Homo sapiens: one gene and its partners. The protein of the gene in region 4 purifies or fractionates together with the protein of the main gene of each other region. This does not show direct contact. Each region holds a gene or a part of one and is shown on either strand. Other genes may lie near its edges. The genes, in order: TSPAN5, TSPAN14, OSTM1 and ITGA3.

Region 1 (7,812 bases), on a different chromosome or scaffold from region 4:
GCATGGAGAGATTCCAAGAGATAAAAACCCACACGAGGAGTAATTTTTTTAAAAATGTACTTTGGCCATCAAGATTCAAAGACATCTAAAGGCTAGAATACTGGTTCTTTTCTTTCTTAAGTGGTGGGACCCCTTTTTTCAAGCAAAATCTTTCTTAGTATCCCAAAATATCAAACTAATAACCAAGCTTTTCTGGAGGAAAGAGAGGTACTGCTCAGTCCACACCCCACCAGCACAGACCCACCCACCCACATACGCCTCAAGGAGGCCTAGGATTGCTGGTAGCAGGTTTGAAATCCAATGGGCCAGAATAAGACATTTAAATGGGAGAAATAAACAGAACTAAATCTAAATTCAAATAATTAACTGGAGGGTTAGGGCTTCTGATTAGCATATAGCTTAGGGGGATGGTTTAATAGAGTTCACTTGAAAAAGTGAAGGTTTTATTTCACTAAAAAGTCAATCCAAGCCAAAGTGTTCGTTGGCTGCCAGGGAAAGCAAGTGCAGTTTAGCCTGGGTTAATAACTAGTATTTGTATTTAGAGATTTACCATTTATGAAGCACGTTGATATGCATGATCTCACATAATACTGGATAACAACTTTGCAGAAAATTATTTTCCTGGTTTTTTTAGATGAGCAACTGAGGAACTAATCTGTGAAAGTAACTTACTCAAAGTCAATTCCAGACAGTAGCAGAGGCTTCTGCCACCAGGCACAGCACAGCCTAGGGACTGAAGGGAGAGTTCAAGAGCCTGCTGCTCTTCGGATGGTTAGAAAAGCCTGTGAACAACGTGTTTCATTCTGGTTGCTGCATTAATAGAGGTGTGTCCAAATGGGACCCTAGGCAGAGCACCGTGACCAGGGCAAAGAACAATCTGGAAACAGTATATGTAGACCTAACACTCTAAAACCGAACCCTGACATGCTCTTCAACATCTCAAAAGTTACTCCACATCTCTGTACTCCAATTTCTTCATCTGTCACAAAGATATAATATGTTTGGAAGACTCTTTGAGATGCTTACAAGAAAAACATCATTAGTGTAAACACATGGAGGAACTAGGAGCTTTTAAAGGTGGAAAACAGAATGTTTAGGAATGACATAATGGCTATTTTTAAATAATGAAGGACCATGGGGAAGGAAGATAAGTCTTATTTTACATCATTCAAGAGTAGCCGAGGCTCTTCGCCTTCTCCTTCCTGAAAATTCAAAGCCATTAGGTAGGTCCAATCTGGTAGGCTTCCTACGTTTACAAAAACGTAGGAAGAGGGATGCTGTGGAAGCCCAGAGCAGGGTATCTCAGGGAGAAAGGTATCCATATGGGGATGGGGGTGGTGGCACAGGATGCTAGAGCACTAACAGCTGAGGAGGGCAGCCCCAGGAGGAAAGGTGGTGGCAGCTGCAGAAGATTGGTTACATATGGGGAGATTTACCAAATAAGTAAACTGTTAAGAATAATGCGAACCAAGAATCTCACTGTCAAATAAAGCAGTTATAAAATATGGAGAGGAAAAACTAAACCCTGTGGTATCAGACAGGAATTTAAGGTATGACTGTAAACTCATGGTTTTAAAAGTACATAGATACAGAATTACAGATGTACATGTGTGTCTGTATATACACAGAGTAGCAACACCCTAATAGCAATGAGCACACCAAGCAACCAGATCTTGGCTTCTAAATTCCATTCTCCATTCAATAGCTCCTTGGAGAAATGTCTGATACAAAAGATGACACAGGTAAATCACAAAATGAGTTTGGAACATCTTATTCTGCCAGAGAGCAAGATGGTGCTCAAAGACTGATGGGAGTTAAAAGAGCACAGGAGCCAATGTGAAAAGACTGCACTGGCCAAACCTAGGGCCATTTTAAATAAAGTAATGACAGTAACATTAAACCACACTGAAAAAAGGAAGACACTAAGTTCTTACTGATATAAATAAATAACAGATTGAAAATTTGATGAGGAATAGGCTATTTACATGGTTTCAATGTAATTTGCCATAAAACATTTATAAATTACAAATGAGAAAAGAGTAACTATATGGTAGAGAAGCCTGGCAGACAACACCTTGATCAAGTGACCATCATCAGTAATGGGACAAACAGAAATCAATGCCACCCTGATAGGGTACAATGAGAACGCAGCACCATTTCTGTACTATTCCTACCAAAGATGCACAGCCTGAATCTAAGCTTGTGAAAATGGCACAAACACAAACTGAGGGACATTCTGCAAAATAACTGGCTTATAATTGTCAAAAGTATCAAGAGCATGATAGTGAAGGACTGAAAGAGACTAAAAACATGTAACTAAATACAAAGTGTGGTTCTGACCTGAATTCTTTTGCTTTAAAACATTATGGGAGCAACTGGGAAACTTGGATGAAATCTAAGGATTAAATGGTGTTAATGTATCATTGGTAATTTCCTGGCTTTCATGGTTGTACTGTGGTGATCTAGGAGAATAGTCCAGTTTACAGAAAATACATACTCAACTGTTTGTGTGATAGCCAACATGCTGGCAACTTTGTCTCAAACAGGATAAAAACAGGTTCTCTATACTACTTGCAATTTTCCTATTGGTTTAATGTTTCCAAATAAAAATTTTAAATGAACAGTAAATTAGGAGGATGGAAATGATGGGGAGACAGATAACATCTAGTTTGAACAGATGAAACTCTACAATTAAAGTGGTCCAAAAACAGATCCATGCTTAGAAAGGTAGGCACGATACAATGGAGAATGCTTCACTGACTAGGAAGTTAGAGGAGATGATTCCTACGTACTTTCTGATGATTTTGTAATTCTTTCCTTCAACATACTTTTTTTTTTTTTTTTTTTTTTTTTTGAGACAGGGTCTTGTTCTGTCACCCTGGAGTGCAGTTGCAGCCTCAACCTCCCAGGCTCAAGTGATCCTCCCACCTCAGCCTCCCAAGTGGCTGGGACTACAGGCACGCATCACCACACCCAGCTAATTTTTAATTTTTAATTTTTTTTTGTAGAGATAGGGTCTCACTATGTTACCCAGGCTGGTCTCAAACTCTTGGGCACAAGCCATCCTCCAGCCTCAGCCTCCTAAAGTGTTGGGATTACAGGTGTAAGCCCCCAAGCCTGGCCCAAACGTTTATCAAAACATCTACTGTGTTTCAGACAATGCGCAAGACACTGGGCTTATGAAAGTGAGACAGCCCCCACACTTGAAGCCCTTATAATCCAGTGGAGTATGATTTATTTGGAAGTTAGAAATTTTAAGACAGTCATCAGTATTACACACAGAAACAAACATGTGATTCAAGAATGCTGTCTACAATACTCCAATTTTCATTTATGAATTTTCAATAGGCTACAATTATTCCACCATATTCTTGAAGAACATTTTCATCCTAACTTTTTTGTGCTTGTGGGTGGTGTTAATTGTGGCATATGCAAAAACTTTATCACTTTTCGATTATGAACAGATGTAAATGACTTACTTGATGTTTTATTTTAGAATAACAAGCATCTTCTAAAATAAGTCTCCACCCAAAAAGCTGGGGCTATCATTACGGAAGAGACTTAACACTCTGAAACTGAACCTTGACATGCTCTTCAACACCTCAAAAGTTACTCCACATCTCTGTACTCCAATTTCTTCATCTGTCACAAAGATATAATATTCTTGGAAGACTCTTTGGGGTGCTTACAAGAAAAACATCATTAGTGAAAAGTTCTGTTAAAAATGCAGATTGCTTTCACCTTTTGCCAGGGACTACCTATTACTGTGGACATTAAAACAAAGTGACCCATCTAAATGAGTGCAACATTTTGGCAAGTTTATGGTGGTTGAAACATGATTTGGTTTTCCAACTTCTCCCCACTTGGCTTCATTTCAATCTGCGGAGTATATCAAGTGAGAATGCTTCTGCGCCTTCATACTGCCCCACAGAGGGAGTGGCCACACTAAGCAAGCCTATATTCAATTACTTTCCCCACTTTATACCTTTCTTACACTTTTCCCATATGACACTTTCATAACCATATTTAGCTTTCTTCCTACCATCTCCCTGTAATTCAAAACGCAATTTAGATTCCCATATGGTTGCCATCGAAGCTAACAGATGTCTAGCAAATTAAAACAAAAATTATGACTTATAAACTGCTGATGTATCATCATTCCAGAACATCTTGCAATTTATAGTGAATCATAAGATAAAGCTTCCTACTTGATGCCCCCCCTCCCCCACCGCCCCAAGGTTTCCTGAGTCTCCCTCCTCTCTGAATTAAGCCCTGTGGAAGCAAATTAGAGGCAAGATCCTGCCATCAACCCTGGATAAACTTGCACTTAAAGACACAAGGTAATATCTGAAAGCATATCAAAAGAGAAAGTTGGCCTCAAGTAACTGAGGCTTTTCTAATCCTTTGTAGCAAAGAAAACAGAAAAATGACTTGGTTCTCCCAAATCATTCCACCGTTTCCATTGAGTTCTTTCCTAACAAGTCACTATAAAATCTATTGAATCCATTTGCCTCATCTTCTTGGCAGATCTTAAGGGTATTATCATTACCTAGTAGTAATGATGCCAAAGTACTAGACTAAGGCATTCTAGAAGTTCTATAGCCCTGTATGGAACCAGTATAAAATCTGGAGACAACAACAGTAATGATATTCACTATTTGTTAAATATTGAGATATTATGCCGAATAAAACATTATCTCACTGAATCTTTAAAACTACAACACCATTAATGTTATCTTTCCTTTATAAACAAGAAATTAAGGCTCAGTGCCTTAATACAGTAGACTATATTTTTCAAAGATGGCCACAACCTACATGACTTTCTGCAATGTGACCTTGACACTTCTCCATCAAAAGGTGGCTTCTAATTCTTCACCCTTTGAAATTCAGCAGTCTGCATGAGTGCTCTAACCAATGGAATAGATAAAAGTGGCACTGCCAGTTCTAAGTGGAACCTTAACTGGCTGGAAGCTTCTTTAAGACTTAGAGACAGGAAGAAGCCACGTGTAGGTAGGTGCTCCAGTGACAACTCTGGCTAAGCTCCCAGCAAGCATCAGCTTCCAGTCATATGAGTATACCATCTCAGGCATCCTGCCCAGAGGGCCTTCCGGTAAGTCCAACTCCAACTACATCTCACCACAACTGTATGAGACCCCAAGTGAGAACTGTCCAGATGAGCCTGGCCAAATCACAGAACTGTGAACTATAATAATAAACAACTGTGTTTTAAACAACTAAGCTTGGAGGTTATGTAGCAATAAATAACCAGAATATTGAGATCAATTTACTTGCCTGGGAACAGTTAAGTATCCAGAATCCAAAACAGTTAAAAGCCAGAATCCAAAAGGGCAAAACATCTATTAATGATGAGTGATGGGATGTGGTGTTCGGTACCCCAAAGAAATGACTTTAAAACAAAATCCTCTTTCTTCTCCCTCCCCCAAACCCAAAGCAGTCTCAGGGTTTTCTGAGAAATGTCCCAGTACGGTGACACCCTCAATAAAATCAATTCCCTTCTGTCTTGAATTGTTCCAATATATAACAGAGGAAACAAGTTTTCCCCCACCAGCCTGTGATAACTAATGAGAAAGGAATCTGTACAAGATGTTGACTTTGTTACTCAGAATGTCATTACAACTGTTATATAAAAGGATTCAGATTTTATACATGAAGCTGTAATTCTAATAATAAAAATATATTTAATGACTCACAGGACTACATTTGAGATTCACAGTGGGGAGAGAGAAGCACGGACACTATACCAGGAACTGAACAAGCCAAGAAGAAATTAGTGAAAGGTTTTTTGTTTTGCTTTGTTTTGTTTTTTTTGAGACGGAGTCTTGCTCTGTTGCCAGGCTGGAGTACAGTGGTGTGATCTTGCCTCACTGCAATCTCCACCTCCCGGGTTCAAGTGATTCCCCTGCCTCAGCCTCCCGAGTAGCTGGGACTACAGGCACCCGCCAACACACCTGGCTAGTTTTTTGTATTTCAGTAGGGACAGAGTTTCACCATGTTGGCCAGGATGGTCTTGATTTCCTGAACTTGTGATCCGTCCACCTCAGCCTCCCAAAGTGCTGGGATCGCAGGCGTGAGCCACCGCGCCCAGCCTTGGTTTTTTTTTGTTTTTGTTTTTTGTTTTTTGTTTGTTTGTTTTTTATGAAAGGATCTTTGAGGAAGAAATGAAAGTAATAAAACTAGTCTTCAGACAAGTCTCCCTAACAGAAAATGTCTATAATTTATCACGTGTCCTGGTATATACTACTTCTGTTATAAATTAGTGGCCAAACTCTTCTATTTTTCTTCTCCAGCATATTGGAACTCAAGAAACTCATTCTGTGTAAGAACTAGAAAGAACGTTATAACTCATCCACCTCCTTCAATTTAACAGCTGAGAAACTGAGGCCCAGGCAGTTAACTGATGAAGAGCCAAACTGCTGATCAGGAAAAGAACCAAGCTCTCAGTGCTGGTGCCACCATATGTTCAATTTTATTTTACCAGAACTATACCTTTGAATGTCACCAGTGTATGTCAAATGTAGTCTAGCAGTTCAGTGTGAAAATGAAAATTAGGAAACCATGCTGTTGGCAATCTCTTCTTCATAATTGTATGGGAGTAGCACCGAGTCTGCTGTTTTTGGCAATCACAGACAGGTTGGTGACTCTGTAGAGAGCAGAGGTGTGTAACTTTTCAGAAGCAAGCTGCCAAGCTACTGACCCCAGCTTTTCAGTCACTAACATCTTAGTCTGAATTACTTTAACCAAAACCATATGGTTGCCTTTCTGTTGATCATCACTAGAGACCATGGTACAATAAAGCAGGAAATTTAAATATGGGGTAATTTTGAGGCAGAGAGCAGGATAGGAAAGGTATGAGGGAGTATCTGAGAGGAAGGCTTTGGGCACAGAGAGGAGAGGAAGGGAAGGCAAGAGGCAGGGTAAGTGAAGGGCCCTCATAAGGAAGGCACTCACTTAACAATTCTGCCTGGGGCAGCTAGTTTAGTCCCATAGCCTAGGTCTCCTTTCAGGCTTCCCATACTCACCCACCCACCTATGAAGACCTTCACAATCAGAAAACATGCGGCTCTGTTCTGGACCTCTCCAAGCAAGCACTCTGCAATTCTTTGAAGCTCTCTACAATTCCAGGGGTTTTGCTGCAACCTAATCCATAGAAAGGGCTAAATTTGTCTCTATGCACTCCACAGAATTACAGCAAACTGTCAGGGAAACAGACCCAAATCCTTTTATTTCCTTACCACCCCCTGCTAGGAAACGGCAGAGAAAGTCCCTGGGTGCTTTTTGTTGCTGGGTAGCTAAAATGTGCAACTTTTAGAAATGTTCAAGTAGAAACAAGAGGCCTGAACTCACTACCCCAAAAAGAACCAGTCCCAGTTCGGTAGTCCGTGCCTCTCCAAGTCACAAAGTTTCAAGTTCCAATCAAATCAGAATATCTTACTCAAAACCGTGGCTACCCACCACTTTTAAACATTTTCACAAATGGAGAAGGGGCAAAGAAAGAAAATAATTCCTTCTTCCTGTACTTGTAGCAGTGTTTAATTGCAGGGAGGTGGGTGACTGCTCCCGGGAATCATGCACAACACTGGCAAAAAACTGCCTGTGGAATGATCGGATATGACATCCATTCATGTGTCCCCTCATTATCTTTATTAGTCCTGAAGACAGATGACATGCTGACACGGAAAGTGGTCTCCAATCCCTTGCATTTCCCCTCACAAAACATACATGACCAATGCAAGGTATTATAATAGAAAACAGAAAATAAAATAACCTGGTAAGAGTGCGGTACAAAAAAAG
Region 2 (7,812 bases), on a different chromosome or scaffold from region 4:
ACTGACTTATGCCTTTGCCTGTAACTTTTGCCTCCTTAAAATGTATAAAACAAAACCGTAATCCAACGGCCTCAAGCACCCTTTCCCCACACCTCTTGAGACCGTGCTTTTCCCAGGACGCAGACACTCACTGGATTGGAATAAACCTCTTTAAAATATTTTAGAGACTTTGGTTTTTCTGTTAACATACCCCACCCCCCACCAAAGTGGGGGTGTTTCAATGCCTTTCACGATGAGCACCAGCTCTTTTTACTTTGAGTCTTGTAGGTGCTACAACATTTGTTAAAATGAGGGCTGGGTGCTGTGGCTCACACCTGTAATCCTAGCACTTTGGGAGTCCGAGGCAGACGGACAGCTTGAACCCAGAAGATGAGTTCGAGACCAGCCAAGGCAACATTGCAAGAGTTCGTCTCTATGAAAAATTTTTAAAAATTAGTCGCGCATGGTGATGCGTGCCTGTGGTTTCAGCTACTGGGAAAGCTGAGGCAGGAGGATCACTTGAGCCTGGGAGGTGGGGGCTACACTAAACCATATTCATGCCACTACACTCCAGCCTGGGCAACAGAGCAAGATTCCATGTCAAAAAATAAAATAAAATGAGGACACTCCAAGGTGCAACCCTATCTGGGGCTGAGGCTTGCTTCTTGATTTGTAAGACTTGGCTGATAAGAGAATCAAATAAGACAGCCAGGATGGGTTTTGAAAGGGTAAGCTATAATGCTAAACACATGAAAACTAGTGGGAGTTATGAGTTCTATACAAAACAACTCTATTTCAAAGGCAGGTGCCTTACAGATTCTGTCTGTGGTTTAGAAAGGAGACAGTATGGGTTGGGGCGGGCACACCTCAGATAGAGAAGTCAGACAGCGGGTGAGAGTGGCCTTCACCCCGCCTGCAACCCCACACATAGCTGAAATTGTACCCCAAAAGAGAATGCTCATTTTGCCCACCAAAAAGTGGTGGGGGAGAGAAGGGAGAGATTCAGATGTGAAGAAGCAGGGTACAGTTCCCCTCAGTTAGAGAAAGGTCCTCACAACCATAAGGACCAAAATAAAAAATATTCTTAACCAATCCTGCCTCTGTTTTCAACAAAGACCAGGAGATTAAGAACGAGCATCCTTTGTGCCTGAGAGTGGCTTTTTCTGCCAAAGACCCGGAGGCTAACTCTCTCTCTCTTTAGTGTGCACCTCAGTGGCCCAAAACAGGTGAGACCTCTCTCTGTTCCCACTGTAGGTGTCACTATCTTTCTGATCCAGTAAGAGGGGATACTCTGTGCTTCTCTCAGCATGGCTGGGAGATAGGGGTACAGCCAGAGGAATTAGGGGTGCAGCCAGGGGGCTGCCATGCCTTTGGCTCAGTGGGCAGATTCATGTCACAAGGGTTTCCACCCCACCAGCGCTGTGTGCTGGCTGCCTGCTGCCCACTGCCAGCCTGAGATTCAAGAGCCCGGAGATGGCAGAACAAAGGAAAATGGCTGTGGCTCCTGCAGCGGGGGTGGCTGCAGGCTGAGCTGCCAGCACACAGGCTTTTCAGCAGCTGAGTGCTCGCGTGAGGAACGGGAGCACTGGGCTGAGCACTGAGGCACAAAGCAAGTGGGGGGCCTGGGAGACTAATAGCAACCCAGGCACGTGCCTGGCCCCCACCCAAGGGCACAGCTGGGCCGGGAAGACTCGGCAGAACTCACTCCCCAAAGCAGTGGGCAGGTGGCCGACAAGCCTGGCACCGGCCACTCCTGCTCCTTGCCCAGCTGCTCAGAACTCTTACCCAGAGGTGTTCCAGGCAAGCACAGGGACTTGAGAAGGGCGAAGGGGGATCTTGACAGAGGCAGAAACTAGAATCTGAGAACACATGATGGGCCTTGGAGTGGCTCAAGGCTGTCTGCAAATGGACCTCTATTAAGCATAAAGGGCTCCTGCTACCAGCAACAATAGTTGCACTGACCACTCCCTCTCCCACTCTCCTCCTTCTCTAGTTCCCTCCCACCCTTCCCCCAAAAAAATCTACAATGGGAAGCAGCAGGAAACCAGGGCAGAGCCCCTGAATAGCTCCACTGTGAGGCCCCAGGTCCCGCCTCCTCAGCTCCACAGGTCAGCCCTCACTGCCACCAGGCCACAATAGAAACCTCTGTGCTACCAAGGACCCAGGCCCAGACAATGAGCTGCACATGGGAAGCTCTGGCCTTCTCACGGGGACTGCATGTAACCGCAATGGTGAGAAGTTCTCTGAGTAGAAGGGTGGGAGAGCCATGGCAGGGACACAAGCCTCAAACCCACCAGGTCAGGGTCTATTTAGGAGGTCTATCTGCCAGCCAGCCCTAAAGTCTCCCTGCTTCCCACCCTGCCCTGGCATGGGGCAGTGAAAGCCACACAGGGAAACAACCAGAGAGCTCCCAACACAGAGTGGGCACCTCCAACATGCTCTCACGACTGTCCCTCCTTCCCCACCCATCCCAGGAAGAACCGTACCCCATTTCTGTTCTGAAAGGAAGCTCCCGCTCAAAACACAAAACCCATCTATTATTTTCACCAGGTGCCTTTTACACAGGCTTTTAAAATCACAGGGTGGCAACCAGGCCCAAGGCGGCCTGAACAGGGAGGTGTGCAGAGCAGCGAAAGGCCAAGGGAGGCCAGAGAAGGAGGCCGATCCTCACACCAACCCCTGACACTGCGGGAAAATCTGCTCCTCTAAAAGCTGACGCCAGCTCCAGCTTGCTGCAACCAACGCTCCCCCTTCACACCCCACATAGGTCCTGCAAAGTCGTGAGGTTGCTGGAACCCACTATGAGAAGCCTGCTCCCCGCCTCCCTACACCCCAACTCGCTCTGGCTGACTCCTCACACTTTTAGGGGCACAGGCTGCATGAGCCAGAGGGCCAGCCAAGGGCTGTAAATATGGAGGTCACGGAGACAGGCTGGCCTGAACTGAACCAAAGATGGACTTGGGTGGGAACCAACACGCTGGCACCTCTCATGCCTTCCCAGTAGTTTCTCCAGCTCTTGTCTCTGTAGAAGGCCAAGATCCCTCCAAAAGAAAACTTTGTAAACTTTCATTCCCCCTTTCGGAATCAAAGCCGCATGTTTCTTTTCCTTTTACACACCTAATGCAGTAACTCCACATCTAGTCATTTCCACTACAGACCTGCAGCATGCATAAGACACTCCTGCAGCTTAGCCTATAGAAACAAAACACTGAAAGCAACCTCAAAATCCATCAATAGAGAGCTGGTAAAGTGAGTCATCATTCACTGTGCAGCAGAATCATGCACTGCTGTTAAAAAGAATGGACTAAACTATGTGTGCTAAAATGGAACAATCCTGGGATAAATTCTCAGAGTAAAAATCAGGAAGTGCAAAACAGCATAATTAGTATACCACTGGGGTAATAAACAAGAGAGGAATACAGTCATGCTTGACTAGGCACTGAACATCTGGTGACAGCGGCCTCAGGGGAGCAGAACTGAAGGGGTCAGGGATAGAAATAGGAGTTTTCACCGTGTATCTTTGTTATGTGTTTTTCATCATGTATACATTTTTGTAAATAAAAATGTTAAACCTAAATTAATATTTAAAATGCCTAAAGTTTGTGGCTGGACACACAATTTTACCCGTAGCTGTCTGCAGGCAGCTTCTGGTGTTTCCCTAGAACAAGGCAGAGTAATGGGGAGGGGAAACGAAACAAGGGGAAGGAGGGGGTCAGGCAGTGGCAGCCTCAGGGATACAGACTCACCAACTCACAGGGCTCCCTGCTTTCGACTCCACCCCAAGTCCTGAAATAGAAAGTTTTCCTAAGAAGAGCAAGAACAGATTCTGACAAAGGCACAAAAGAAACCAGACCATCTGCTGCCAAGCCCACTTCATGATAAATCTGTAAGACCCTAAGATTCAGGCAATGTAGGCGATGCAGGAGACGGGACTGAAACCCAGGCATCCCGGGCATCCACAGGGACCCTTCTCTGAGCCCTCCCCACTCAGTCATCAGTGGAGCTCGAGGTCCTAGTGCTATGAACACATCCCAGTTTCAGCAACTAAAGAAAGCTATTTCAACAGATTTCTAGGCCTGGCCCAATTCCAAGGACAGGCTAAAAACAGTTTCTCCAAAATCCCAGCTCAAAACCCCATTCCCTAACCACTAAACTCCATGTACCTTCCAGGAAATGGAAGCTGCAAAATGGAGCTGTGAGATGCACTTGTAGATTTATTCCTCACTAAAGAGATACATATATGTTGTTTAAAAGCTTCCTTTAACTGACGTGTCAATAAATACTCTGCACTCAGAAGCACTGATATACTTCCTCCAAGTGATTTTTCCCCCTAAGGAACAATACAAAAACCATTCCAGCCTTTCCTGCTGCTGAGGGGAATGACACAATGACCATTAGAACCAGGACTGGCCAGACCATTTGAGTGAGAGATGTGTATGGCAGGGAGTGCTGCATAAACAGAACTCTATCTATGTAGAATAACTCCTCCACCCCACCCCACCCCATCCCATCCCATCCCACCCCATTCCTACGCCCTAGGCCACCAGGGCGGACAGAAATAAACACCTCCTAATGACCTCAAGCTCAAAGACCGCCCAGACCACAGGGAAAGAAGGCCAGAGAGGGGGAATGGGTATATTTGGTTCCCCTTACAGAATAAGATGCTTTCTGAAGACTGCTAAATATGTTCAATAAGTAGCCCCTGAATTAAGAAGCACAAATCAAGTGCCCAGGAGTTTGACACCAGCCTAGGCAACATAGCAAGATCCAATCTCTACAAAAAATTCTTTAAATTAGCTGGGTGTGGTGCTGCATGCCTGTGGTCCCTGCTACTCAGGAGGCTGAGGCGGGAGGATCACTTGAGCCAGGAAGGTGGAGGCCTCAGTGAGCTGTGATAGGGCCACTGCACTCCAGCCTGGGCAACAGAGTGAGACCCTGTCTGAAGGAAAAAAAAAAAAGGCACAAATGAGATCTCACAACAGTGAGAACCATACTGGCACCTGAAGCCCTCGTATCTCTTTCTGCTCCTCTCGGTGGCTCAGTGCAAGCCCTCAGCAGGTCTTGCCTGTAATCCCACAATCCTCTGTGAAACCAAGACCAGCCCCTCTCCAACCGTCTTTCTGCAGGAGTGAGCAGAGCCCAACCCAGGCACTAATCTTCAACACACCAAATCCTGGCACCTGCCTTTGCCACCTCATCAGTCATGCCATGGAGGGGAGCGTCAGGGCTACCCTACACCAGAGGAGCCCTCAACTAAACCTGCCCGCCCCACCCCATCCTGGGCACATGCCACTTGTTCCTCTTTGCTCACACACTTAGCACCCCAGAGCCCTTGGGAATGAATCCCCCACCACTACCACCAACTCTGATTTTGGCATGCCCCCCTCAAAAACCTATCCACGTTTATACCATCACTTGTATTTCACAAGAAGCTACTAGAGTTACAAAACACAATGACTGTGGTAGGCAGGATGGCTGCAGAGAGCAGGGTTCTGGCACCACCACTGTTCCACTGCAAGGGTGGAAGCTGGCTACAGAGCCTTTAGGAAGGAGGGAAGGCCCCATCCACAGCCGACAGGTTTTCCTTACAACAGCAAGGGCCTGGTTCCTGAAAAGCTGACTGTTGAGACAAGATCAGCCTCAAGAAAAGGAGGCAGGCCAAACAGGGTCACCTGTGCAGGGTAGGCTGGAGGGAGCCGGCCCTCAAGAGAGGCAGAGTCTGATCAAGTAGACAGGAGGGCCAGAGAGAAAAGGAGGAGCCTCACTCATGGAGGAGGAACAAGGTAGGCTGGAGGCAGGGACTTGTAGGCCTCAGACAGAAGGAAGCTGGTGAAGCTCCCATAGGCAAAATGCCCAGGAGCTCCGGCTAGAAGGCAGCAGGAGTGTGCAGTCCAGGCAAGAGGAAGAGATCCCCCACAGCACCTCCCTCTGCCCAGCTCAGACAAATGGGACAGTCAATCCCCAGGCTGATGGAGGCGGGAGCGAGAACCACAAAGTTGTCAGACTGGTTTGCCCAGGACAGGGAGAGCAGGGAACACAAATTGCAGCAGGAGCTCAGCTTCAGGGGGCAGAAAAAAGCAGCAAAATTGGTGGGCTGTAGGGAAACAAGGACCCAGGTCCATGCGATTTCCTGGGTGCAGAGGGGAAATCCAGCAGGCCAAGAGCAAGGGAGCCAAGGGACAAGGGGCCAGCAGATGCTGAAAAGGACCAAGGTTTCTGGAAAAAAAGAGAGTGACACTTACAAGAAGGGACACCTACAAGGAGAGAAACCTGTCCCCTACTCTTACACTGGCCCAAGCTCAGGACCACTCACACCTGTCTCCTGAGGGACAGGCCAGTGCAAGAAGAATGGACAGGACACTGCCAACCACGGGATACTGACAGAGATTCTGTCCCTCACCAAACTTTATTCCTCTGAGCCCTCTACTCATCTGGTCCTGACCTAGGGTTCCTAACTCCATTCTCTCTAAGAGCCTAGTTTTAGCAAAACTCCTGTTAACCAGAATCCCCCAACCTCAATATCTAATCACCCTGGATATCTGAACGTATTTCTCATCCTGTACTATCTCCCAGGTAAAACCTGATCACCCTGGCCTGCCTGCAGCAAGAATTCAGTTAGCTAAGTTTAGTAAAAATTTCCCTACCCTCTTAGAAATTTTCAGGAGCCCCCACACTCCGCTCCTTGGCTATAAGTTCCCACTTTTCTTTGTTGTATTTGGAGTTGGCCCACTCTCTCCCCTCTACTGCAAAATCCATTGCGATAATTCCTACATCTATCGTAATAGTCCTGATACAGTCTACCTTACCAGTTTAACAAGTGTCAGAATTAAGTTTTTCTTTCACCAGCTCCCTAAGTCTTCCTGGACCCACTGCTCCCACCCCTCACTCAGGGTGTGTAAATTACTTGGTCTGGGGCTGTGGCTGACCTCCCCTAACAAGCCCCAGAAAAAGACCCTGTCTGCCTGGCCCAGGGACACAGGAGAGGACCCTCAGCACAGCTGGTGGGCACCCAGACTGGGGACAGACACACTCCTACTGCTGAGAGTCCCATAGCATCCCCAGGATCACCACTCAGACCTCGGGGTACAAACAAGAGATTCGGGAGAGGCCCATTTCCTTCCACTGCTGTGGGGCCTCTCTCCTGGATGTTAGGGCTCCGAACTCCTCTCAAGGCCGTGCAGTGTACAGGAGCACAGGCCCAACAGCTGGGACTGTCAACGCATAGTCAGGCAGGAAAAACCCAGAGAAGGTTCACTAGCCCCTTGTTCCAGTCCCTCCCCAAACCTTACCCATGCAGGACAGCCCAACTCCAGCTCTCCCAAATGCCAGGAAACACAAAGACTCTGAGGCAGCACCAGGAGCTCACCTCTTACCAGAATCCCAGAAGCCACTTTAGAGACAACTGCCCCAGCTCTCAGGCTCCCAGCTCAGGCCAGCACAGCCTAAGGAGGGAGGAGCCAGTTCCTCCAGCTATCTAGCTGAAAGGCACAGGCTCTAGGCCTTCTCCCTGGCTGCTCAGTTGGGAGGCAGTACAGACCGCAAGGGGTGAAGAGTTTCAACCCCAGCCTGCCCAGGCCCACTTAAGCTCTGGTCTCCAGGCCTGGCCTGCTGCCTCCTAAAAGAAAACCACAGCCCCACCCAACCCTACCCAACCCCACCAAGCCCAAGGGCGGAGGAAGTGAGGTTCCCAGAATCAGCTGCTGGTGAACACTTGCTGAGTGCCGCCAGAGATGGCAGCTGTCTCACACCAGTGTCAGGCCTAACTCAGGGGCTTTGGATCTTGCTTCTCAGGGTACTAATGCTTCACTGCAACCCCGTGAGACAGAAAAGGCA
Region 3 (7,812 bases), on a different chromosome or scaffold from region 4:
TCCTGTGTCTTCAAATGGTATTAGTCTTGGTAGGAATCTGGTTATTGGAAATTGATGGAAGGTCAAAAGAAGTGTTAAGAGTGCAACTTTTTCTACTCATACTACAAATAACATGGAAACTAGCTGTTTCTGATGGAGAATGACTGCCAAAAAGTAAAGAGAGTATATTAAAGGTTTCTCAGAATTTTAAAGGTGTGTATTGTTGACATAGGGATAGCCTTGTTATTGAGACCCTTCTTGCTTATCTTGTGCATACAGCAGTTAAATAATCAGCAGAATGACCAGATTTGATGAGTTCATGACTGCTTTAGTGTTTTGGTTCTTTGGTAAGCAGTATCCAGTATGAAGCATTATTATAATGAGATAGGCCTCAAAATTATCAGTTCAGATATTTGTTCTTACACACTGAAAACTCTTTCTTTATGAGCAACCTATATCTTCAGTGATACAGGTGATCTGGGTGATAATTAATGAGCATAATGATGCTGTTGAACCACTGTGTAATCCCGATGTATATTCTGATTCATCAGAGGAAAACTAACTTTCAGTTAACACATACAATGTATGTCTTGATGCTTTAAAAAGCAACAACAATAGTACTTAATGATTAACCAGAAGGTCAATTAACCAAAACATTTTTTTTTTTTTAAGACGGAGTCTTGCTCTGTCACCCAGGCCGGAGTGCAGTGGTGCGATCTCAGTTCACTGCAAGCTCCGCCTCCCAGGTTCACGCCATTCTCCTGCCTCAGCCTCCTGAGTAGCTGGGACTACAGGTGCCCACCACCACGCCCGGCTAACTTTTTTTGTATTTTTAGTTGAGACGGGGTTTCACCGTGGTCTCGATCTCCTGACCTCGTGATCCACCTGCCTCGGCCTCCCAAAGTGCTGGGATTACAGGCGTGAGCCACTGCGCCCGGCCCAAAACCTTTCTTTCCCATATTTTATCCAGAGGGAAATGTACTAAGCGTTATAATCATATTATTTGTATCTTATAATTTAAAGTATCTTAGTTTTCATATTTGTTAAACTTAATTAGGTCATTTAGGTACAAAGTTGCCGTAGTTTATTTTTATTTTCTGAAGCTTACCCTAAATTGGTGATTATCTCTGCTATTTTCTATAAAACTAGTTTTGAAAAACAGCAAAGATCTTTGTAAAATTCCTAAGAGATGCCAAATGCTTTATTTAAAGATGCATAATTCCTGTTATGATAATTTAGTAGGTTTCTCTGTGAGGTCTTAACTTGAATCCTTAATACCTTTAAGAATGCCTCTTGAGGCCAGGCACATTGGAGGCTGCAATGAGCTGAGATTATGCCAGTGCACTCCAGCCTGGGTGACAGTGAGATTCTTCTGTCTCAGAAAAAAAAAAAAAAAAAAAAAGATTGACTCTTAAGCTGATGCCTGAGCCTTCTCTGAGAAAGCCACTCTGCTAATCTGCCCTTGATGAGGCTCCATTGATTATCTAAGATGAAGGAAATTCATAATGACCACTTCACTTAGTGCTTAAAGGAAGCTTTATTATTATTAATATTCTTTAACTCACCAATTTCTAAAACATACAGCTTCTCACTGTTTATAATCTTAAGCTCCCAATTCCTGCAAAAAGATAAAAAAGGAATTTACTAGAGATCTGTTATTTCGATTCAGAAAGTCATGGCTTTTTAATAATGAAGACTTTTTAACCCCATTATATAAATGAACTGCTTTATGCTTTATGTTACCACCATCTAATGATCATTGAAAAAGTTTTGATGGTAATGCATTAATGTAATTATTAATAAAAGAAATTAAGTTCTTTTGTTCTTCAGAGAAGCTTTCTTTATAAATTGCTTTTGCAAAAGAAATTATTTGTTTTAATTAGGTATCTTGCATAGAAGAAATTTGCTATTGCTCTCTCATGATAATGCACTTTATACTACTTTTGCTGGCAGTATGTGGACCCCTTTTATCCCTATATTGTTATGTCAGTTGTCACGACATAGCTCATTATAACACAGATGTACAACTGTTGTGAATGAAATTGTGTTCCCTTAACTTCCCTGCAACACATCAACTACAAAAACTATATAATTGTTTTTGTAAACATGTACAAAAACTATGTAATTGTTTGTTTTTATTTATATCAACTCTGCCTCATCCCTAAAAGGATTGCGGGCTACTTCATGATGATATTAAACTAGCATTAAGAGGGGCAATGAGACAAGTTCTTACTCTTTCATGCAGGTTGGAATGCAGTGGCGCAATCACAGCTTATTGCAGCCTCGACCTCCCCAAGCTGAAGCAATTCTCCCCTCTCAGCCTCCCAAGCCGCTGGGACCACAGATGCACGCCACCATGCCTGGCTAATTTTGTATTATTTGTAGAGACAGGTTTTCACCATGTTGCCCAGGCTGGTCTCGAACTCCTGGACTCAGGCAATCCACCTGCCTCCCAAAATGCTGGGATTACAGGTGTGAACCACCATGCTGGCCTATTTTTATATCAATGGCTTATTAACTTGTGGTATGATCATCAGCATATCACCTATTTCTGTGGCTTAGTTTCCTAATTTGTAGTGATCCCTCAGATTTTTTAAATAAGGGTGAGAAGTTAGAATGAGATTCATGTTCTGGAGAAGATAAAGCTTCAGAGAATGTAGAGTATGTGAGTTCAGAGAGGGGACAACTCCTGAAATAGGTTTACCAAGAGGATCCTGTGTACAATGGGTGCAGAAGGAGCCCTGCACAAGGGGGCTGTACAAGGAGGTGAATGGGGCTGAATTCCAGCTTAGCTTCTGGAGGCAGGAATGACCTTTTGTAATTTATCTACCCAGAGGGAATATCTTTTTCTGATTTGCACAAAGGAGCTTTACTGTGCTGTCTGCCCCTGTCTACCAGGTTTAGGTTTCATCTCAGTTGCTAACTCTGATCAGTTGGTGGGGACTGCCTGAATCCCTGTATGGTGTAAGATATCTATGGGTAGTGGAGGGAGTAGGCAGTGGCATGTATTTGTAGATTCCGAGTCTTGAACTTTTAATGGTTTAGAATGTAGATATAAATATGTTTATTTTGCAGTGTTTGAGAGTGCAGGCTCAAGAATCAGACTGAGTACAGAGTCTAGCTTTTTACTTACCAGTTTTATGTCCTTGGGCAACTTCCTTAATTTATCTAAACCTATCTCTGTTCCTTATTTATAAAATGGAGATAATGATAATTTTTCCCTCATGGAATCACTGCAAGAATTAAATGGGCAAATGTGTTTAAAGTGCAGTGTAAGCATAGTTCTTAGAACATAGCAAGTATTTAGTAAGTGTTAACTTTCGTTGTAGTAATTGTTGTCTGTCAGAGTACATGGATGTCCCTTAGTGTGTCATATCCTAGTGTCTACCTAGTCCGTCTCTCTTTTCTCCACAAATTCTACTTGCCTTGCTGCCTTTCTCCTGGGTAATTGCAATAGCTTTGCATGTTGTCTTTCCACTTCCAGTTGAGAGAGATCCTATCTGATGGCCCTGAATTTCTAAATAAGGTGGGCATAATACAAAGCCATCTGTTGAAATTAAGGGGAACAAGAGTAGGGCTGGGACTAGAGATGAGAAAATATGTGGAACATCCCTTGCAGAGCAATTAGGAGGGCATCTACAAGGATCATTTTGTTGCCCCGAGATCAGAACACATGAATTTGAATTGAGTCCCTTCATTATCATTTTAGAATTTCTGTAGTAGTATTCTGTAACCAGACTGAGAGTACAGAAAGTAGATGGGGACTGTCCAGGGATGAAAATGGCTGTGAATATGTGGAAGATAAAGAGGGCAAGGATTCTAGGAGAGTCAGATGGAAACGACTGACCACAAGTTCCAAGATCTGGAACCAGGCAGTTGAACCTCGATTGGAGATAGCAGGCTGAGAACACAAGGAGAGGTAAAGACAAAGGTTTACCTGAGGATAAAGACTAGGTTCCCTGGCTGAGCGCAGTGGCTCATGCCTTTAAGTAATCCCAGCACTTTGGAAGGTTGAGGTGGGAACATCACTTGCGCCCAGGAGTTCAAGTCTGCAATGAGCTGGCAAATTGTGCCACTGCACTCCAGCCTGGGCAACCGAGCAAGACCCCGTTTCTTAAAAAAAAAAAGAAGAATAGATTATTCCCTGAAGAAGGGAAAATGGATACATAAATTGTGATATACACATACATAGAAAATAAAAGGGATGAGTGAACTTGAGCTAACTCTAAGCAAGAATAGCCAGTTGCAGAGAAATACCATTTATGTAGGATTTTTAAAAATGTAAAACAATTTTGTTTCTAGACTTTACTTGAAGCCCCCACGTCAGTATTTTAGGCAAAATTCTCACCAGTTTGTTTCTCTGGGCTCCCAACTCGTGATGGATTAGAAAGAGCGAATTTTAAAAGTTACCCCATTAGGTACAATAAATGACTCATTAGTGAAGTTGGAAGATGCAGAGAACTATGAAATTTGACACAAAAAATGATAAGGCATATGAGTTTCGGTAAAATTAATGCAGGGTAAACAGTCTTATGCCTAAATAGCACTGTTAAGGCAGCATTTGATAGCTGATATTCCGTGATTATGACCTTGTGCCATCAAAAGTCCATTTGAATTTTATTTGGTATATTTTTATGAAAAGAGAGTATGTGATTATTTTAACATGTTCATGAAAATGGTTATGACTTTTTTAACTTTTGGAAAATAAAAGGAGTAAGCTTCATATATTTGGAAAATTCATGCTTGTTTGAATAAAGAATTACTGTAGTGTGAAACGAAGCTGATAGCTTAAGATATAAATGACAACATAGAATTGTTCCTTGAGTTATATTAATATACTTTTTGAATTTTTTTGACAGATTGTTTAACAAACAACAGTGAAGAATTATCAAACAGCACAGTATATTTCCTTAATCTATTTAATCACACCCTGACCTGCTTTGAACATAACCTTCAGGTATTTTATATATAATATTTAAAATTAAAATGCTGCCTTGTACAAAGGAATAATGTGCAGTTCCAAGTTTTTAGAGCACTAATTATTGATATTTATCTAAATTCATGATGTAAAGGAGTTAGTGGACCTGGATTTCTGCTCTTAAGTAAGTTCTTCTACTTACAAATCATGAAAACCTCAGTTCTCTCATTGTAAAATGGAGATAATATCTATCCTGCCTATCTTAAAGTATTTTGTAATGAGAATCTGGTGAGATAATGATTGTGAAAACATTGATTGAGGTGTGTGATTGTTTAATTAAAACACAATGGTTTTCAATCTGACTTACGTAGGTATTTTGCAGTGTAGTATGATTCTGTCTATAGGAAGTTTATTCTTTGCCTGAAATTTGCTTAAGTATGTTTTACCTACCTTAAAAAGCACTGTTTAGTAAGATAACTTTGAGTATTGAATTATGATAATAAAAGGTAGCTTTAAGAATCTTAACCTTGTAGATTATTGCCATCTCTATCTCTGACTCTTGAATTTTGGTATTGGAACTTGCCCGGTCGTGGTGAAGGACGAGGTTGGAACTCTGGTTAAAATGTAGTTTTGAAACTTACATAACAAGTAAGTAATCCCCATAGTAGATGTACACATGCTTAGGGTATAAGCATGTATGATTTCTTCTGTAATAAATGTGGTAACACTGAATTATGAATTTCCTTGAGAATAATAAAAATTGGGCCAGGTGCAGTATCTCATGCCTATAATCCCAGCACCTTGGGAGGCCAAGGCAGGCAGGTCACTTGAGGTCAGGAGTTCGAGATCAACCTGGCCAATATGGTGAAACCCTGTCTCTACTAAAAATACAAAACTTAGCCAGGCTTGGTGGTGCACGCCTGTAGTGAAGTAGAGGTTGCAGTGAGTTGAGATCGTGCCATTGCACTCCAGCCTGGGCGTTGCAGAGAGACTCTGTCTCAAAAAAATAAAATAAAAAAAATTAGGTGAACATTTCTCAGAATTTGTTCTGCAGCATGTTAATAGATGTCCTATCAGAAAGGGTTTAGTATTCCATTAAGGTTGGGAAATGCTTTACTACAGGACTTCAGAGCCTTTAGTGGACTGATGTGTGTTGTAACACTCAAATAGCAATTTTTCTATAAAGTCATCCCTTTTATATATGGCTTCACTTTCCACAGTTTCAGTTACCTGTGGCCAACTGCAGTCCAAAAATATTAAATGGAAAATTCTGGAAATAATAAGTTTTAAATTGTACACCATAAACAGTCTTCTTTTCATTTAACTTAGAGTACTTGTATGAGTTTGGTAGATTTCTAGAAGTAGAATTACTATATTGGCAGCCTAAGAAAAAGACACTAGAGAAAATTATCTCCAAATATGATGAGTTTATTAGGGAATAAGAAAGAAGTATGGTAATTTGGAATGCACTGGCAAACCACCAGTACATCCAGTGAGGGAAGGGTAAAGGGAAGCTTTTATTAGCAAAAAGGGAGAGGTTCACACAAGCTGCTTGGAAACTGAGTTCATTGGTTCCTGAGGCTCAAAGCCAAGTTGTCAGTTCATTGGTGGCGATGCCATTACTGGGCAAGTGTTCTTTTGAGTGCATCTTATCTGAATTACTGCAGTCCTAAAGAATGGCAGTGATAAACCATGTGAAAGCAGGAGTTGCAATGAAGGGCGTGAAAGGATTTCTTGTGGGGTTTTTAGAAAGTCTTTGGAAACAAGGACTCTTTTTGTCTCTATTTTGTCTTGGTCTGTCAAAAGGTGATTTCATCCTAATGTCTGCAACTTTCACATTATTAAAAGATATGTGCATTTTAAATTTGAATAAAAATTGTGGCCAGGTATGGTGGCACCTGCCTGTAATCCCAGCACTTTGGAAGGTTGAGGTGGGAGGATCATTTGAGCCCAGGAGTTAGAAATTAGCCTGGGCAAAATAGCAAGACCGTGTCTCAAAAAAAAAAAAAAAAAAAAAGGTTAAATTACTCCCCATCTAGATTATGTGCACAATTTTAGTTAAATGGATTATGTGCTCAATTTTTTTTTTTTTTTTTGAGACGGAGTCTCGCTCTGTCACCCGGGCTAGAGTGCAGTGGCGCGATCTCGGCTCACTGCAAGCTCCGCCTCCCGGGTTCACGCCATTCTCCTGCCTCAGCCTCCCAAGTAGCTGGGACTACAGGTGCCCGCCACCACGCCCGGCTAAGTTTTGTATTTTTAGTAGAGATGGGGTTTCACCGTGTTAGCCAGGATGGTCTCGATCTCCTGACCTTGTGATCCGCCCACCTCGGCCTCCCAAAGTGCTGGGTTTACAGGTGTGAACCATCGCGCCCAGCCCTGTGCTCAATTTTTAACTAAGTGCACAATTGTTCTGTGAAAAACAAGCAATGGGCTATTTCTTGTAGCAGACTAAGGAGAGACTTAGTTTTTCTGTCAAGCAGATGGTGAGGGTAACATTGTTGGGCCAACATCAGTGTAATTACTTTGATTTTTCTCTTTTCTCTTTCATCCCAATGTTCAGTTAATATTCTTTCTTCATACTACAAAGTAAAGAATAAAGGGCATAGAAAGCAAAGGTGTGAACTGACTGTTTAGCAAACTTATTCTTGAAAAGACAAGTGTCAGTCTAGAAGTACAAAATATTGAGATTTAGTAGCATAATATTTTATGTACCTCCACTATCCTCATTTTAGGTTATACAATTCTTTGGTATTTGGCCCTTTTTGTTGACTAGAAAGGCCTGGATTATGAGCCTTGTGATAAGAGAGTTGAGTGGGGATGCAGTTTTGGTGCCTTTTCCCTTTCCATTTAAAAAGTTCTGTCTCAGTAAGATAAACTATGGTGTTCAAGTCAGCATAGGCAGGAACCTATTTTAT
Region 4 (3,500 bases):
GCTGGGAAGGGGGTGGGACCTTGCCTATACTTCAAGACAACAGCTCAGACCTCACCCTGGGGAAGTGTTCCTGGGAGAAGGGGTGAAGCTTCCTGGCCAGGGAGGCTGGCAGGGGGCCAGGGTGGCAGCCAGGCCTGGAGAGTCACTTCTCTCTGGGCTGGGAAGGCCTCGATGAGTCCACTGCCTGACCACCCATGGACATCCGCTCTCTGGCGTGCCTGACAGATGAGAGAAGGGACCCACAGCCTGCGGGAAAGGAGCATCTCAGCCTGAGAACCCACGGACCTGGGTCTAGGGTTTGTTCTGCCTGAAGGGGCAATTTCCTTTCCTTCTCTGAGCCCTGAGTGCCCCATCTGTAAAATGGGGGCAGCCCCTCTCCTGCTGACCTCCAGGGTTGCTAGAGGAACAAATAGGTCTATTCTACAAAAAGGTGTTCTGATATGAAGCCATAGCTAATGTGAGCATTGTTGTTCCGATTTGTTGTGGCATCAGGACTGGTCTAGCATGCCTCCAGCCCTCCCTCCAGGGACCCAGGAATTTCTTTTTTTCTTTCTTTTTTTTTTTTTTTTTGAGACAGGGTCTTGCTCTGTCACCCAGGCTGGAGTGCAGTGGCACAACCTCGGCTCACTGCCACCTCCGCCTCCCGGGTGCAAGTGATTCTCCTGACTCAGCCTCCCAAGTAGCTGGGATTACAGGCATGCACCACCACGCCCAGCTAATTTTTGTATTTGTACTAGAGATGGGGTTTCGCCATATTGGCCAGGCTGATGTCGAACTCCTGACCTCAGGTGATCCACCCGCCTCGGCCTCCCAAGTTACTGGGATTACAAGCGTGAGCCACCGTGCCTGGCTGGACCCAGGAATTTCTGCCCTGGCATGTTAGGGAACCTGGAGCAGAGGGAAAAGAAGAGACTCCTTTGGTGGTTTAGAGAGATCAGCAGGGAGACATAGGAAGACTTCCATGGCTTGAGGATACCAGGTGATCACTGGGGTCAGGGTGGGAGCGCTGGCAGCTAGAGTCACTCTACAGCGGGGGCTCAGATCTGGCTGGAGGTGGAGGTTGGGAATTTTCTACAGTGACACTAAGGGGTCCGGGCCTCAGTGGGAGGCCGGGCCTTGGGCACGCCTGTAATGGAAGTGTTGCCCCCTTGTTGCTGCTGCTGCCCTGCCCATGTTGTCATACAGGAGGCAGCTGAGCAAAAGGGTCTCCATGCCCTCCCAGCCCCCTCAACTCAGCCAGGAAGGGGCTAAGGGACTCCCTCCTCTGAACTTCCCAAGGTACTGAGCAGGCAGAGCTGGGCACGCATGTCAATCAGATTGAAATACTTCCCCTTACCACCAATACCCTCCTGCCTGTTGCCTGGAACCAGCCTTATGCCTACTGATAGAGGGCAGGGCAGGGCCAGTGCCCTAATCCCAGCCCTACATCCCAGGCCCCTCCCTCCTCAGAGATTCCAGAGTGAGCCCCCGCTTCACCCCCCCAGAGTATTTTTAGCTTCCACTTGGCCCACTCAGAGGCCCTTTAAGGCCCTCTGGCTCCCAGCCCAGGATCCAATGGGTCTACAGCCAGAGGCCTGCACATGGATGGGGGAAGGCGGGTGTGCAGAGGGTGGTTCCAGCTTCCTCCAGCCACACACACCCAGGTGTGTGCGGAGGGGGTTGGAGAATCCTGAAGGTGAGAGGGACCTTACTGTATGCAAATGAAATGCAAATTAGTACACAAATGAGCAATTCTGCCAGCCACCTGCTTTTAGGTCTGGTCCAGATCACAAAATCCAAAAGCTGACCCCTTCCAGAGCAGTACTGAACCCATCCCCTCAGCTGCAGCCAGAAGGAGGGAGAGTAGGTGGAGGGATGCCTAGATGGAGCTCTTAGAGCAAGGAAGATAGGAGATGGGACTGCCCCTCTCCTGGAGTCAGGCTGGACTGGGGGGAGCAGAGACCCCCAGCCCCCCAGATGGAGTGGGATGGGTGAAGTGACTACTCAAGGGCTTTCCAACAGCTGCCTCCTCACCCTCCCATTGGCTCCAGCCAAACAGCCCCTCTTGGCCTCTGCGGAGCCCCTTGAGCTCCAAGTTCCGAAAAAGCCCTTCCTTACCCCTGCCCTATCACTCCCCTTGGGGCAGTTCAGAGCTAATGGAACAGCCAAGGAGAAAGCAGAAGAATCAAAGAAGGGCGCGGCACAGTACCCAGGAGAATTCAGGGTACCAGGTTGGCTCACCTCAAAGAGGAGAAGGCCCCTGGGGGCACTGGGGTGGGGTAATGCTCAGAGAAGCAGCCTGTAAGATTCACCTTCCCAGATTCTGTCACCTCAGGGAGGCACTTGGTGGCTCCATGGGAGGATTCCAGAGGGGGCCAAAGGATCTAGCACTCAGGCCAACATGGCAGGGCCTCACTCCTTGGGTACCTAGCCTCCTGTGTTCCCCTCCTATCCCCGGCCGGGAGGCAGGTGGGGAGGGTGCCTGCTCCACCTCTGAGCCCCAGAGAAGGGGTGGGGGCAGCTCTGGGATGCCTGGATCCCAGCTCTATGCCAGCCTTGCTGCCCGAATTAGCCATCTCCCCAGAGGCCGGCCCTGTGGCAGCTGAAACTGCAGCCCTCCCCATCCTTCCTGACCCTTCCCTTGCTGCCCACCCAGCCCCCTCTCCCCACTGGTGACTCAGCCCTAGAACCAGAGCAACAAGCTGGAGGGAGAGAGAGAATGAGAAAGGACAGGAAAAAGAGCCCTGGCTAAGCCTCAGATAAAAAAAGAACAAGGCCATTTTTCTCAGTTCTGCTCCCTTTCCTTGGCTCTTCAGTATTTTTCCTGTATTTGACCCCCGAGGGCATTCTAAGTGTCATCTAACCTCAATTCCTCTTACTGCAAAGGGGATCTTCTTCCTTCTTTGTTTACTTCTGACCAAGCCCCCTTCGCTGCTGCTTTTTCTACAAGATCAGGCTTCCCCTACTCCTGCCCAGTTGAAAGCCTCTTGGCCTAGACTGGTCACTGGGTAGAGCCAGAGGAAAAAGATACTACACGAGCAGGCCTTCTGCCTCCAGCCACAGCTGCTGTGCCCATTTCTGCTGGCACGAACCTTGAAGGCTGCCAGGCACCTGCTTTGCCCAGGGAAACATGATGTTAGGAGAGCATGGCAGGTGAGCCTGGCTCCTGCGTACCTCAGGCATGACCTCATTTCTAGGAGCCACCCTGCCCTGGGCTTCCCAGATACCCTCATTTCCAAGCAAAAGTGAAAGAGAGAGAAGGACCGGCAGTATCCCCATAGGCCCACAGGGTCAGGCCAGACCAGAATGCCTGGATTCCCAGGAGGGAATGTCAGTGCAGGTGCTGGAGCAGAGAGGGTGTCAGTAACCACCTCCCAGAGAACAGTCCCTGTCCCTCCAAGGAACCCCTCATGCATCTTGCCAAGAAGCCCAGAGCACTTTGGTCCTCTGCCTGCTCCTTACCCCTCATTTCCACAGACTAGGAGACTGGGCCCTGGGTTGGGGCTAGCCCCCTATGTTGT

What was found.
Region 1: the proteins of ITGA3 (region 4) and TSPAN5 purify together in Homo sapiens (co-immunoprecipitation; one large-scale study listed by IntAct). This does not show direct contact.
Region 2: the proteins of ITGA3 (region 4) and TSPAN14 purify together in Homo sapiens (co-immunoprecipitation; one large-scale study listed by IntAct). This does not show direct contact.
Region 3: the proteins of ITGA3 (region 4) and OSTM1 fractionate together in Homo sapiens (co-fractionation; one large-scale study listed by BioGRID). This does not show direct contact.

The regions. Positions count from the first base shown.
Region 1 is NC_000004.12:98,649,037-98,656,848, forward strand, and holds part of TSPAN5 (tetraspanin-5), read right to left. Parts: intron 1-7,812. UniProt on the Homo sapiens protein: Part of TspanC8 subgroup, composed of 6 members that interact with the transmembrane metalloprotease ADAM10.
Region 2 is NC_000010.11:80,459,041-80,466,852, reverse strand, and holds part of TSPAN14 (tetraspanin-14), read right to left. Parts: intron 7,569-7,812; exon of another isoform or gene 7,269-7,568; intron 3,766-7,268; exon of another isoform or gene 3,726-3,765; intron 1-3,725. UniProt on the Homo sapiens protein: Part of TspanC8 subgroup, composed of 6 members that interact with the transmembrane metalloprotease ADAM10.
Region 3 is NC_000006.12:108,051,614-108,059,425, reverse strand, and holds part of OSTM1 (osteopetrosis-associated transmembrane protein 1 precursor), read left to right. Parts: intron 1-4,838; coding exon 4,839-4,936; intron 4,937-7,812. UniProt on the Homo sapiens protein: Required for osteoclast and melanocyte maturation and function.
Region 4 is NC_000017.11:50,059,110-50,062,609, reverse strand, and holds part of ITGA3 (integrin alpha-3 preproprotein), read right to left. Parts: intron 1-3,500.